Linked DNA regions of Homo sapiens. The protein of the gene in region 2 interacts with the protein of the main gene of each other region in a pairwise test. Each region holds a gene or a part of one and is shown on either strand. Other genes may lie near its edges.

Region 1 (7,036 bases), about 57 Mb from region 2:
TGAGGATATTGACCTGATATAATATATTTTTTAATGTTACTCTGTAATATTTTCTTTGTTAGCAAAGTTTTGTTTTGTCTGCAAATGGAAATGTAATTTGTTGATATATACACATACATTAAAAAATGTTGATTCAGTTGTTTTTACTAGAAAGAAGACAGAAAAGGCCTACCATTGTTTAGAAACATTTGTTGAAATTACTAATTAATATAGGTTCATAAGCATGCATTGCTTTTTAACCAGCTCATATATGTGGGTAATAATACATTTGTATCTTACTAATAAAATTAACATATGAGGGTCACAGTTCATACAATACTAATTTATAACTGAAATAGTTTGATTTGTATTATAGTCAAGATGGTATGTATATGTGCATAAAGATTTTAAAAGTGGAATCACAATTATAATGCATATGACTAATGGGAAGAACTGAAGAACTAATCCTAAATTGATTTCTTGTTTCTTTTATTCTGAGTTAATTATATGTCTGCCAATAACAATGAAAATATATTTACTTGAATATTTGACTTGGCATTTATTGACCCATTTATCAAACAGTAGCAGCACAAGGAGAAACTATTAATAGAACATAATTTGAATAGAGCAGTGCTTGAGCTATTGTACAGTCATACATTCAGAAAATTTGGGGGGCATTTATTTTGGATGTTGTTTCTGGTCAATAAATGTATTTGGGAAGTACAGTATTCATTTTTTTTCTTTTATGTAAAACCCGGATAGCATGTAATTAGAACTTGAATGATAGCATTTGCCTTGCAGGGCTCAATGAGTCTTTTAAAATATATGGTTGCAAAAGTCTCAGGTTATATAGTATGAGTACTTTATGAATTGGACAGCTACACTATGCCTGGTTAGGTTTGGTAATATGAAAACAGAAAAATGAGAACATGCCCTGGATTTGCATTCATGCTTACCAATACATCCAAAACTTCTGATAGTTAAGGAAAAGTTGTATAGTATTGATGACAGGGCAAACCAAAATTAAGGACTGACAGAACATTGGTAGTTTCTTTTAAACATCTAAAAGAGCTTCTTCTATTTTTAAAAATGGCATATAATTAAAATTTTGACATTTAATTTTTATAAACATATTACATAAAACTCAATATAATGCCATATTCCCTTAAGAGGGAGTAAATGGAGGAAAATCTGAGGCTATTTTGTGAATATTTTGTTTATTTTTTCTGTTTCCAATTTTAACTTGTGTAAACACCATAACAATAATAAAAGAATATTTCATGAATTTTTAAAGGAAAATTGTATTGAAATTAAAAAGTAACTTAAGGTGGCCCCATTTACTTCTTTACCTCAATATGTATGTGTTCTTTTATTTTAATTGGTAAAAGTTAGGAAACCTCCAGAACAGCAGGCAAAGTCATATCCTTTAGTACTGTATTACCTAATTGGAGAAAGAACAAAATCACAAATTATTATCATTTATAGTATTGAAATGGAGTTTTGTAATTGGAGTGCTTTTTTCTTTCTTTACACTTAATCAAAAAAATTTAGATCCTACCAATATTTAATTTTATAGTTGGCAATTATTCATTCAACAAACATTCATTGAGCAACTGCTAAATCACACTATGAATACTTGGCAAATAAATTATATAACACCTTCCTTCCTGAATTACAGGATTGACATCAAGCAATTTCAACTATATAAACCTAACTGTAAACTCAAAATTTTTGAAGTTCTCATTTAAAGAAAAAATTTGTTTCCATTTTCTCTATGAAATTCTATAAAGAAAGCCTTATCATGTTTGTCATGAGTAATTATCCAAAACTTGGAAATAGGCAAAAAAGGTCACTGAGTGTCCTTTGAGTATTGTATTAGACATTGTCCAGTAGCTCACCTTCCTGAGGACAGTCAGGTTTATGGGGGTGTGAACCTTTGTAATGGGCTGTTTTTTCTTGGATATGCCAATCATTCTTTGACCCCAGGGCCTTTGCACTTGCTGTTTCCTCTGCTTGAAATGCTGATTCCATTAGCTGTTATTCTGTCATGCACGCTCACTTCATTTAGATCTCTCCCAGTAGAATCATGTGGGACTTTTAGTGCTAACACTAGGACAGCCCCATGCAAATCTTGATGGTTGGTTAGCCTAAGTCTCTGCTCAGTTGTCACCTTAGAGCATTATTCTTAAAGTGTGATCTCTGAGTTCAAAGGGGTCCCCAAGACACTTTCAGGGAGTTTGTAAGGTCAAGCTATTTTTATGATAATACTATACAAAGGTACCATTTGCCATCTTCTCTATGTTAATGCACACATTGACAGTGCAAAAGCAGCAGTGAGTAAAACTCTTAGCACCTTAACACAAATCGAGGTGGTGGCACCAAACTGTACTAGTAGTCATCTCGTATTCTTCACTGCCATGCACTCTCAGTAAGAAAACAAAAACCGCTAGTTTTACTTAATGTTTTGATTGAAGTGTCAAAAATATTAATTTTATTGGAACTGATCATTGAGTATATTCATTTTCAATATTGTGTACGATCACATGGGTGGTACATCTAAAGTACTTTTATATTCCGAAGTGCCACGATTGTCTCAAGAGAGAGCATGTGTGCAGTTGTTTGAGATGCAGTATGAGCTAGCTATTCTTTTTCTGAAACGCCATTTTTACTTAGATAATTGACAGTCAAGTTGTAGTTATTTAGATTTGGGTGTTTGGCAAAATTTTCTGAAAAATAAATGAAGTAAGCCTAAAATGTCAAGGCAAACATCTGACATTCTTCTTATTATTTTGCCAATGATAATATGCAAGCTTTCAAACAAAAATTAGAATTTTGGAGGATTCCTATCTATCTTGGCAGCTTGGCAGCTTCCTGGTACTTAAAGATTTTTCTGGTGAGTTCGTTAGTGATATTAATGAATATGAATGTTACTTTTGAAGCAGTATGTTTCAAGATGTTTCAGAATGTTACTTTTCAAAGCATATTATGAAATATATCAACATTTGGAGGATCTGCATAATTCAGGGAAGCAGTAAGTAATGCATAAAGTTACAAAACTGTGCATAGATAAAAGGTAGACTCAAAGTGCAATGTAGACCAATGGATTTTATTATAACATAGAATGAAAAGTTCATTGAAACGGCTTCAGATTCCACATTGCAACTAACCTTTAAGGAGCTACCACATGGTGAATTTTGATATAGTATCAAAGAAGAATATGCACAATCATTTCCAACTACATATCTGTGCACTCCGTATTCTCCAACTGAAAAACGTATTACAAAAGATTGAGTAGAAGCAGATATGAGAGTCCAGCTATCTTCTTTTTTAATTTTTTGTTTTTATTTATTTATTTTTAAGAGACAGAGTCTCACTCTGTTACCCAGATTGGAGCTCAGTGGCACAACAACAGTTCACTGCAACCTCAAACTCCTGGCCTCAAGTGATCCTTCTGCTTCAGCTTCCTGAGTAGCTGGGACTACAGGCCTCTGCCACCCTACCTGGCTAATTTAAAAAATATATTGTTTTCTAGAGACAGGGTCTTGCTATTTTGCCCAGGCTAGTTTTGAACTCCTGGCCTCAGGTGATCCTCCCACTTTGGTCTCTCAAAGTTCTGAAATTACAGGCGTGAACCACCAAACCTGGTCTCAGCTGTCTTCCATTAAGCCAGATGTTAATGAGATTTGTAAAAAATCTATATGCAACTCCTTTTTCTAATTTGTTTTTGTTTTGGAAAGTCATTTTTCAATACAAATGTGGTATTTAAAATGCAATAGGATTATTGTTATTAAATTAATGTTTAAAAATTTTTCAGTTTTAATTTTGATACAGAAAATATTTCTAGATATAATTCATGAAAACAATCAAACAAAAAGAAATTCTCAATAATTTTTTAGACTATGAAGAGGTCAAAAGACCCAAAAATTTGAGGCCCCCTCTCTGTAGAGGCCCCTCCCTGACCTCCCTATATAAAATAGCATTACCATCTCTCCCTGTCTCTATGCTGTGTGATATGTACCACCTCTTGGCATATTTTATATTGATCTGTTTATTATTTGTCTCCCTCCAGTGGAATGTAAGCTCCACAAGGGATAGAAATTAATCTATTTTGTTCATTGCTGTTATTCCCAGCATCTAGAACAGTGCCTGAATAATAGTAGGTATTAAACAGACATTTAGTGAGTGAATAAGTTAAAATTTTTCTCATAGAATCCTGTTTTCTATTTTCCTCTGCCTTGAATTCTACTTGTTTGATTTGATGCCTTTCTTACATGGTGGTAGATTTTCTTATTAACTTTAAGATTTATTATTGATTTTATTTTATTGAACTTATCTTTAGAAGAACTTATCTCTCCTGGCTGTTCGACATATTCCTTTGATAGAAAAGATGTCCCTAAGAAGCAGTTTCACCCCTGCTGCCAGGGCCTCACAGGTTTCCCCTGTTAAGGACCAGTTTTTATGTTAAATTCTGAGCTCAAGATTTCTGCACTGTATGGATAAGAGAATCTCAGGGTTCAAATTCTCAGGATATGACTCGTTTTCCACTCATGGCTCAATGGGATATAGCTCACTTATACACTGCATCTCTAGGGCAACAGGTGGAGTTTTTTATCCATCTTTCGTAACTGGCATAGATATTTCTCAATTCCTGGCAGTACAATGAGTCCAACCCTGGCTCTCTTTGCCTGTGATTTTTGTTCTTATGTGGGCATTTAAAGCCTAATCCCTAATGCCTGTATCCTTTCTGAAAGATGCTCCTGTGGGCTTGAATTTTATCACCATCCTTACACTGAGCTGTCTATTTGTTTCTTGCATGAAGATTTCCCTCCTCCTTTTGGCTTAGCTATGTAAATGATAAATATTTTAAATGTAGTTAGATTTTATCTAGCATTTCTCTTTGTTTGGAGTAGAAAGTAAGTCCTTTCTACTTTTGCTTTTACTGCCATATTAACCATAATTCTGCACTATAAAACTCTTCAATGCCTCACGTTGTCATTCTTGAGTTCTTATTTTTTTATTTGTTTTTTGATGAGTCTGTAATTGTAATTTTGTAGGAGGAAGTTGTGAATGACAGATCTTCTAAGCTATTAATATCTGAAATTTCTGTTATCTTCACACTTGCATGGAAACTTGTCTGTACAGAATTATTGAGTCAAACCTTTTTTTACAACATTTTGTGGATCTAGCACTATTATATTCTGAAATTTATTAATGCAGAAGAGAAGTATTGAAGTCAACCTGGTTTTTAAAAATCCTATTTTAAGGTAACCTGTTAGGTTTTGTTTTCTTCCCTGATTGCTTTTATGATTTTAAACAATCTATAATTCCAAATTTGGTACAGATATGGTTTTTTTTTTCTGGAACAAGGGTGAGCCTTCCATTTTAACCTCAGCTATTATTTCATAGAGTTTGTTTTCAATACACCCATTTCTTATAATTTAGAAGAGCTTTATTCTCTTTTCTCTGAATTGAATCCTCAGAAGTCTGGGAAAACTTTGTATCCTTTACATCCCTAATTCTATTTTTTGCAGTATTAGTTTTAGTTATTTAATGCTCTCTGCAAATTTAAATCATGTGTTGTCTTCTCTTTTTTAACACTCTAATTTTTAAAAATTTCAGCTTGTTCTGTTTTTATCTTTCTCTGCTATGTCCTTCCTTGCTCTTGTTTTCTAGTGGACATGTCTTTGTTTGCATCCTTTTAAGAACAGTAAGTAATTGATTACAATTTTTTTTTCATCCTGTGCTCTTCACTGTAATCTTTTGGATAATTCTCTTTATCTCTTCTGTTAACAGTATTTTTCATAGGGTTCATGTTGTTATTCTGTGAGATTTGTTCAGACCTGCAATTTGCCTATAAATACAATATATAAATTGTTTTTTGTCCTGTTCTCATTTTCTTGAATACTGGAAGAATCAACTACTTTCTTAGAGCTAAAGCTGATTGACAAGCTGATGTGAGTACCCCCAGCCCAATTTCTAGTGTTCTTGTAGTGTAGCTTTATTGCCTGAGATATGATTATTTCTTGCACATGTGCCAAGTTTTCTTATTTGTTGAGGAAGATGTATGTTTTAAAGAATGTGTGACATTTTATAGTTCTTCCATTAAAAGCAGTGCATGAATAAACACTACCTCAGCATCCCTTTGTTTTGTATCCTAAGATGTGTGGTGATAGGTAAGGTAAGGTACTGCCACCTGAGTTGTCAAATAACACAGAAGTTATCTTACTTTAAAGTTGCTCCCCAGGAAGAGTCTTTCAGATTAAAACGTATCAGTACAAGATGTTCTTGACCGGTCAGTATTTGTGCTTTGCTGGTCTTTCCCTAATCAGATTACTGTCTCGCTGAGATGAGCAGCTTTGGAGGAATAGGAGTTTTATTTGAGGAAAAGAGGAAGAATAATTTTGCAGTTTAGGGGTTATTTTGAAAAGAGTTGACTGTGGACTTTGGAACAGGAGGTGAGTTCTGAAAAGGTGAGTGGGAAGGATCAAAGGCAACTGGCGACTTACAGCTGTACCTGTGATCTGATGCTGATAGGAAGAATTTCTCGTGTAGGCTTTGTTGCATATATGGTCTCATGGATTGTTATTGCCTGAATTCATATTTCAAGATAAGTTAAAAGGCTGTATACCTCAGTTTCCTTTGTTCAGATGAGTTCCACAGTTTCAAATGTAGTCTAATTTCTTCTGGTTAAAAATTCCTCCCAAGAGAGATAGAGGAAGGAAAGGGAGAGATGGGACCACCACAGTGAGCAAATGGATCAGATTATTACTCTAAAATGTTCTTTTCGTTCTGAGCTCCCGCTCCTCCCCGTCTTTACTAAGATTTCTCGCTTATGTTCCTACTGGAAAAGTGGGTTTTATTCCTGGGAAATTCTGAGGCCTTCTACCATTATATTTGGTGAACATGCAGTAGATTACTTTTCAAAATTAAGATAGTTTGATTGTTTTAACTCTTTATAAAAGTAGTGTTTATTTATTGCAAATTATTCCAAAAATAGAAATTGGCAAAAAGCAGAGTGAAAATCACCTATAATTCCACCACACGGTTAACATTTTCA
Region 2 (7,227 bases):
CTTTCTCAAAATGTGGCCCCTTGCATTAGCACTACCTGAAGTACCTGGTCAAAACAGAAGTCTCCAGCCCCACTACATCAACTCTCTGAGGGCAGAGCCCAGGAATGTGGATTTTTAAAACAGACTGCCTACCTATAGAACTACTATGTTTCTAAACATTTAACACTGACCTAAAGGTTTCCAAACCCCAAAACAGCACTGTCCTGACACCAATACAATCACCCATTCTGGGTTCCCACTTTGAGATAAAACCTGGGAGACTGCAATTTTCACAAGCTCCAGTCCCCTTCCCCAGTTGATATTGATGATCAGTTAGCTTTGAGAACCACTGGTTTGAATGATAACTAATCAGAATTATTGCAGGCTTCATTTAAAATAGCAAGTTAGCTGGGGCAATGTCACGATTGACCATGGAAAAATATTAGATGAAAAGGTGCCACAGATAGGGAAGAAAAGGCCAAGGCCATTGTGATGAAAACATTGGGGTGGAAAAAGAAATTGAATTTGTCTAGAGCTGCATAGATAGTGCCAGGGCTGGGAAAAACCAAGAAGAAAATAAAATCTGTCCTTGAGTCCCTCCCAATTTCCCTTTCCCCTTGACTCTTCTAGGACTCCCAGCTGGCCAAGCATAACCATAACCATAACAGGTTAGAAAATAGGTTAGGTAAAATAATTCATATTAAAGTATTCATGACAATTTGAATCCACTTCCCAAGGGCACAAACTTTTTAATTTCCAATTTAATAAGGGTCACTACCAGAGGCCTTCATCCAAAGAAATCATCTCTAGGTGAAATTTCAGGCATCGAAGAAAATAAGTGGGTGTGAGTAGAAGGATGTAGGAATGGGGTGGGGACAGGAGGCAGAGGAGCTCTTCTTGTATCCAGAACATAGAGGGGAGAAAAGTCCCTCCTCCGTGTAGGCCAAGACCACACCCAAACATTTCCTGAGAACCTGCTATGTCTGTGTCTCAGGATATAGCACCTTGGTCCTGAGGGCTATGGGGTCATGCCCAGAGAAGCACGGGATATGGGTCATATTACTGAGGTGAGGGGAAAATGTTATTGTGGCAATGACTAGTTTTAAACAGTCCTAGTCAATGATGTGTTATACCTATGAAGCTTTTGGTATGTTCTCAATAGGCTCCTTAGATTTTTATATTAGCCAAATGGCATACCAATTATCTCTCAGTGCCTTTTAAAATAAATCACTGTCACTCCTCTGAAAGTAAAAACATGATCTTATGCAATCAGAACTCCTTGGGGAGTGTCCAAAGACAAGGCACCAGGCTCTCCCCAGCATTTAACCACGAAACCTCTACAGAAAAAAAAAAAAAAAAAAAAAAAAAAGTCCACGTGAAATCTGGAGCTAAGTGTCTCCATTTTGAACCTGCCGTGCCTGTGACTGACCGAGGATTTGGCCACACCAGGCTCCTGAGAATCGGGGCCAGAAAGCACTTAGTACTTTAAGCACAGCAAAGGGAGGAGAGCAGTACCTGTGCACCTGGAGCAGGAAGTCCAGGCCTCATCTTCGGCCTGCAGATGCACACTTTGGCACACCTCTCTCCCCTTCTCTCAGGCCTTTAGAAAAGCAACATTGCAGCACAGGTTACCAAGCAATCTTATAAACAGAATGTGGGTCCAAATGAGTATTTTACATTGCTTCTTCTAAAGTCAATCCTGTTTTTTTTTTTAAGTGACTCCACTTAAGTCTGCTCAAAACTGGACACTAAAGGAGCAGCACAGCAAAAGAGAGAAACAAAAGAATGTGGAAAACAAGAGGGCCTAGGAAGCACTGTAAACCTTATCCCTCCCTCACCAAGTCATTGTGATAGTGGCAGGACTTGGAAGCCAAAAGCAAAACATTTATTTGCTTTTTAGGGAATTTTAGCAAACAGCTCCCCAGTTAGTTAAGCCTTCTACATCAAACTCATAACATTTTTTAAATGTAGTTGAGGATACAACTTTACACATGCCTTTTTCCTGAAAAGATGTTTAGAGTGGCTTCTACAAAGGTCCCAGAAGTAAACATCATGAATTAGCCTAGAGAAAGAATGCTAGATGAAGTACATATTCATATATATATATGTATATATAAATTACATACAGTATTAGCAAAATACACTACCTGTTAATTTTTAACAAATATAGTATAATATTAGGAAAACATTAAGGAAGGGATGTCAAAAATTAAAACTATAGCATATAAATATCTTTAAAAAAATACTGTGCTTGCTGGTACGCTCCTTCATTCACACTCCTTCATTCCATGTTTGAAGGGTGTTAGTTGCCCTAATCAACAGCTTTAACCATAGGACTAGGTGACTCATTCGTCCCATAGTCACATCTCTGTAGTCAGAAGACAAACATGACAAAGGGCATGCACAAAAAGTTTACTCTGATATGCCTTAAAAATCTGTAGACAAGAGAGGGCCAAGATAAGTTTAGCCTGTTTACCACATGCTGGAATTCAGCTCATTTCACATCTATCTTCTATTGCTGTAAATGTATATAGTGTGCACTCCATGAAAACTGACACCAATGTTGGCAAAATACAACAAAGCTTCCTAACACATCAAATGGATTTTTAAAAATCTGAGCTCCAAGAACACATATCTTGGAGCACTGAGCTCCTGCAAGCAATCAGCTGGTTTTAATTTCTCTCCCGCAGCTGCTAAAATGCTGGTTTCAACCTGTAAAGATTTCTGGGCCCCACCAGTCAGCACGTCTCACGGTCTTCACAGCCCCAGATTCCGGGAGACAATGCATCTAAAACGAACAGCGGCTGGGAACGGTGGAGGATACCTTCACGATAGTTGCTTCCAGAGAAAGGCATGCAAGTCTAATTTTAATGGTAAGAATCACTTACTCTGTTACAGTGGTGCTGCTGAAGGAATTATCCTGAAGGCTGAAACAGAAACAAGAAAACATCAGCCAAGTCTGGCCGGGGAGCCGTCTCCCTGATTGCTCTCCGGGAGTTAGAGCACATACACAAACATGGCATTGCAAGGCAAGTCTCCGGGCTCGCCCGGCACGCTCGCTCTACCTTGGGCTGCTGTCTGCACATGCTCGTAACGACACCCCCAGCAGGGGCCCAGCGGCACGGGCGAACCACAAAGCCCGGCAGCCCGCGAGGCTGCGGGGACAGAGCTGGGCGGGGCGCGGCGGCGGGGCTGGGACCCCGGGATCCAGCGAGGAGCACCTGGAGAGTTACCACACGACCCCGACCTCGCCAGCCCAGGCGCCGCGTTTAATCTTGGGCTCTTTGTGCCAGCCACCCCCCGAGGCTGGCAATGAGAATGCCCCAGTGTTTCTGCCGAAGTGCTGAAATACCCGGGAGACTTGCTTTCTTCCACATGTCTCCTACCAATTTTACAGAGCTCACCCCAACCCCCCACACTCCCACCCCACCCCCAGGGATGGAGGCTCGCAGAGATTCATCCATCGTTCAGAAAAAGTCAGGAGAGAACAAGAAGGGGGAGGGGGATATTGCTGCTGTTTGGTGTTTTATTTTGTGTGTGTGTTTTTTGTTGCCTAGGAAAAAGAATAGGCTCTAAAGCAGGGCTGGCTGCATCACACCTGATCTGTCTAGAGCGCTCTTATTTCAGTCCCAGAGAGGAAGCGCCCAGCCCCGGACTACAGAGCTGTGAATGAACCCACGCAGGGCGAGTGGAGAATTTATTCCAGGGGTTAGCTGGTGATTAGGACACCGTGCAAGGGGTGGGGCTTGCTATGCCTAGAGCAGCCCGCTTGAGCTCAGCTCCCTAGCTAGCACCTTTACAAAGGATGGAGAGACGGAATCCGCAAACGCTATCCCTTTGAATAAAGGCAGCCTTGTTAGGGAAAGGAAAGACTGTCAGTCCCCCCACTGGCTTCTTTCCCTTGGGGATATTTGTTCTGCCCTCTTTGTATTGTTCATTTCTCCTGCCATGTTGACCTGGATATGGGATGTAGCATCTATTAAAGATTCTTATTTGAATTTGAATTATTTTATTTGAATTTTGAAATAAGATTCCCATCCCCCTTTTTAATCTTTCTACTCCCAGAAGCAGCTAGGATAGTGGTTTTTAGTCCAAACCTATGTAAGTTAATGAGTTAACATAACAACAAAAAACTCATAATTTTTCTAATTGGGCAATTAAAAACTTTACCAAAACTTGGAAATAATGGGGAAGAGCATGACCTTTCAATGTCAAACTGAGACATCGGTTAACAAGTCCACCCAGGGGCCAGTTAATTCTCCAGTTGTGTTTGGCTTTGCTCTTCACTATTGATTAGATTCCAGCCACAGTGAAGTTCTGTGGTCACTTGCACATTTTATTCAGCCTGTTCAGAGAAAAAGATAATCGCAGCGTTTATGATTTTATTGCAATATAGGAAGATAACCAATTTTGCATCTAACCAAATAATCATTTTGCATCTAACCAAACTTTCTTTCTAAATACCTGTAAATCCACAGATCCTCAAAATGCTTTTGGAACCAGCTTCATCATCTTACAGTTTTCCCCATTAATAAGTGAATAGATCTCTGCTGCCTGCCTATGTTTGTATGAGAGTTGTATTTTAACTTTTTAAATTTATACCTTGAAAAATAAAAATTGAGTTTTCAAAGAAAAACAGGTTTCATTAAGGTTCTTTGCAATTTTGCTTTCCTCTCTCCAAATATTTTTAAAATCAGCTAAATAAAAACCTAATATGGTCTTAGACTGAATTCTATGGACTAAAATAAGTTCAGGAATATTAATCCTTTGTATGTATAACTATACAGTACATATTTGTTCCGAAGCCACCTACTATTTCATTTGAGCTAGGTTCAGGAGTAAGAGACATCGCTGCTTCACTGTATTCATTATTTAGCCATTTCAAAGTGAGATCTGTTCTTTGTTTATTCAGACTGATGAAGGTAAGTCTATATTCAGCCTTCTGACTGACTTATGGTTTCATAGATTACATGGTTGTTAATTTCCCATATGGTTGTTAATTTCCAGAAACCCCTTGTACTCATTGACTATGGTGTTTATTCCAAGTGTTCCAGTGTGGAGAAAGATCACACTTTTCTCCTATAAATACTCCCAGTGATCCACTTGTAATGGAAATGTTCAATGCTTTTAATTTGAAATAGGACTTGGACATTTAATTAAGAACAACCTTAATTAAATGGTTGATTTTCTTATATACTGCCAAATACTGTTTTTTTTTCATTCTATGAAATGAATTGGGCCCTTTGAAAATAAAATGAAATAACAAATGTACCCAATAAATGCAAGTATTCAATAATGTCCAAGGAAAAGAAATAAAAATTCTCAGCAACTCGTGAATAGGAAGGACCAAAATTAGGTTTTAGGCAGTACCCACATACAATGAAAACAACTGGTTGATACAGTTGATTATGGATAAAAACCAAAACATCCCTGAAAAAACATTATTTGGCAGTATATAACAAAATCAACCATTTTAATTTTTACTTCTCAATTAATTCTTATGACATTTGTTTTCATCTTAAATCAGGTTTAGAAATTGTCTTTGTAAGTGGCTTTTTAATTGGCTTTTATGATGTTTTGTACTGTTCAACTTGGAATAGGACAATACTGATGAATATCGTACAACATATGATTATTTTGGAGACCCTCAGCTTTACTAAAGAACAATTCCAGGAGGGTTTGAAAAGGGGAGCAGAAAAATTAATATTGAGTTTATGAAGAAGTAAGTTCTAGGCCAGTATTTCCCAAGTGGCAGTGAAATTCTAGTCTCCAGAAAATCCAGGAAAATGTTTTAAAAGTTACATGGTCAAAAATAAGTTTTGGAAAAGATGCATATTATAAATTCACAATGCACATTAGGTAGCAAAGAGAAGTTTTTCATCTGTTTTTAACAGTGTTCCTCAAATTCATTGAAGACCAAAATAATTTTTTGTTAAATATATCATCAATTAGCATCATGTATAACTAGGAATTTTGAGAAAATAACTCCTGAATATATCAGGAAAAAAATGCAAAGGGAATTAAGTGGTATATTTATTAAACGAATGAATGAACAAATGATTCTACATGCTTATCACTATCCCATAGTTATGAATAAGACAGACACAGTCCCTGACATCATAACATTTTTAATATAAATATATTGCATATTTATATATGTAAAATACATAATGTATATTATATGTACAATTCTATTGTATACAATATAAGTAAAATAAAGGAAAAATGAAGATGCTAGATTTGAATATGGTTAATTCACTTAACATGTTAAAAGTGCTCAATTTTAAATGCTCATTTTTCTATCAGTGCTCTAAAACCAATATCTGAATATCAGATCTAATACCAATAGTTTAGTTTAATTGTAAAATTGTTAATTCTAATGTATTGACTTGACTATATGCAAAATATAAAGCAACAGTGTAGAGGTCAAGAAAGAAATTTCCAGATTTGCCAAGACTCAAGACCCACCGCTTACTAATAGTTTAAACATGAACAACCTCTTTTGCCTCAATTTTCTCATCTGTAAAATAAAGATAATAATGACCTATTTTATGGGTTCTTATGAAGATTAAATTAAATGACATGCCTGACAAATTTAAAAAATAGTAAATAAATGCTGCTAATTATCCTTATTTTCATTAGTATTATTATAATAAATAAGAATATATAAACAAAGCTTGAGACAAGATGAACAATGCCACTGTGCTTGAAGAGGAGGCTTACAGATGATATTTTCTTTCTACTTCCTATGATGGCGCAGTGTTTACACAGCTTTTTTTTTTTTTAAGAACAATAAAATTTAAAACTTTACTAAATGCGGATGGGCTGCTCCGGATGAAATGGGTTTCATCCAGATTGGCTTTGTGCTCAGTTTACAACTCTTCAATTTAAAATACTTGCGCATCCCTGGAGGAACAGACAATTCTGAGAAATCACTTTCTGCAAGATGCTGGGGCAAGAAGCCAGAATCTTTACAATGCCAGGAAATCAACAGAGGCCTGCTCTATTGGCCTGGACAGAGTGACTTGTAGCTTCCTGTCAGTACCCTTGGGAATGACCAGGCTTCCTTGTGAAAGAGAGGACTCTTGCCTGAAGAGATAATTTTTTTTCCACAAAAAAAGAAAAAAAAAAAAACTTCTTCCCATCCCTGTCCCCTAATCTATTTCTTCACCAGCTCCAATGAGGACAGCATATCAAGAGTCCTTATTATCTGAGTGGTCAGTAACTGAGCTCCTGAAGATTCAAAGG

What was found. Proteins that work in one complex are often made in the same cells at the same time.
Region 1: the proteins of FAM13C (region 2) and CCDC172 interact in binary tests that used the Homo sapiens proteins (3 or more experiments, as listed by UniProt).

The regions. Positions count from the first base shown.
Region 1 is NC_000010.11:116,327,414-116,334,449, forward strand, and holds part of CCDC172 (coiled-coil domain-containing protein 172), read left to right. Parts: intron 1-7,036.
Region 2 is NC_000010.11:59,359,532-59,366,758, forward strand, and holds the start of FAM13C (protein FAM13C), read right to left. Parts: upstream 3,019-7,227; 5' UTR 2,930-3,018; coding exon 2,868-2,929; intron 2,853-2,867; exon of another isoform or gene 2,368-2,852; intron 1,580-2,367; exon of another isoform or gene 1,495-1,579; intron 1-1,494.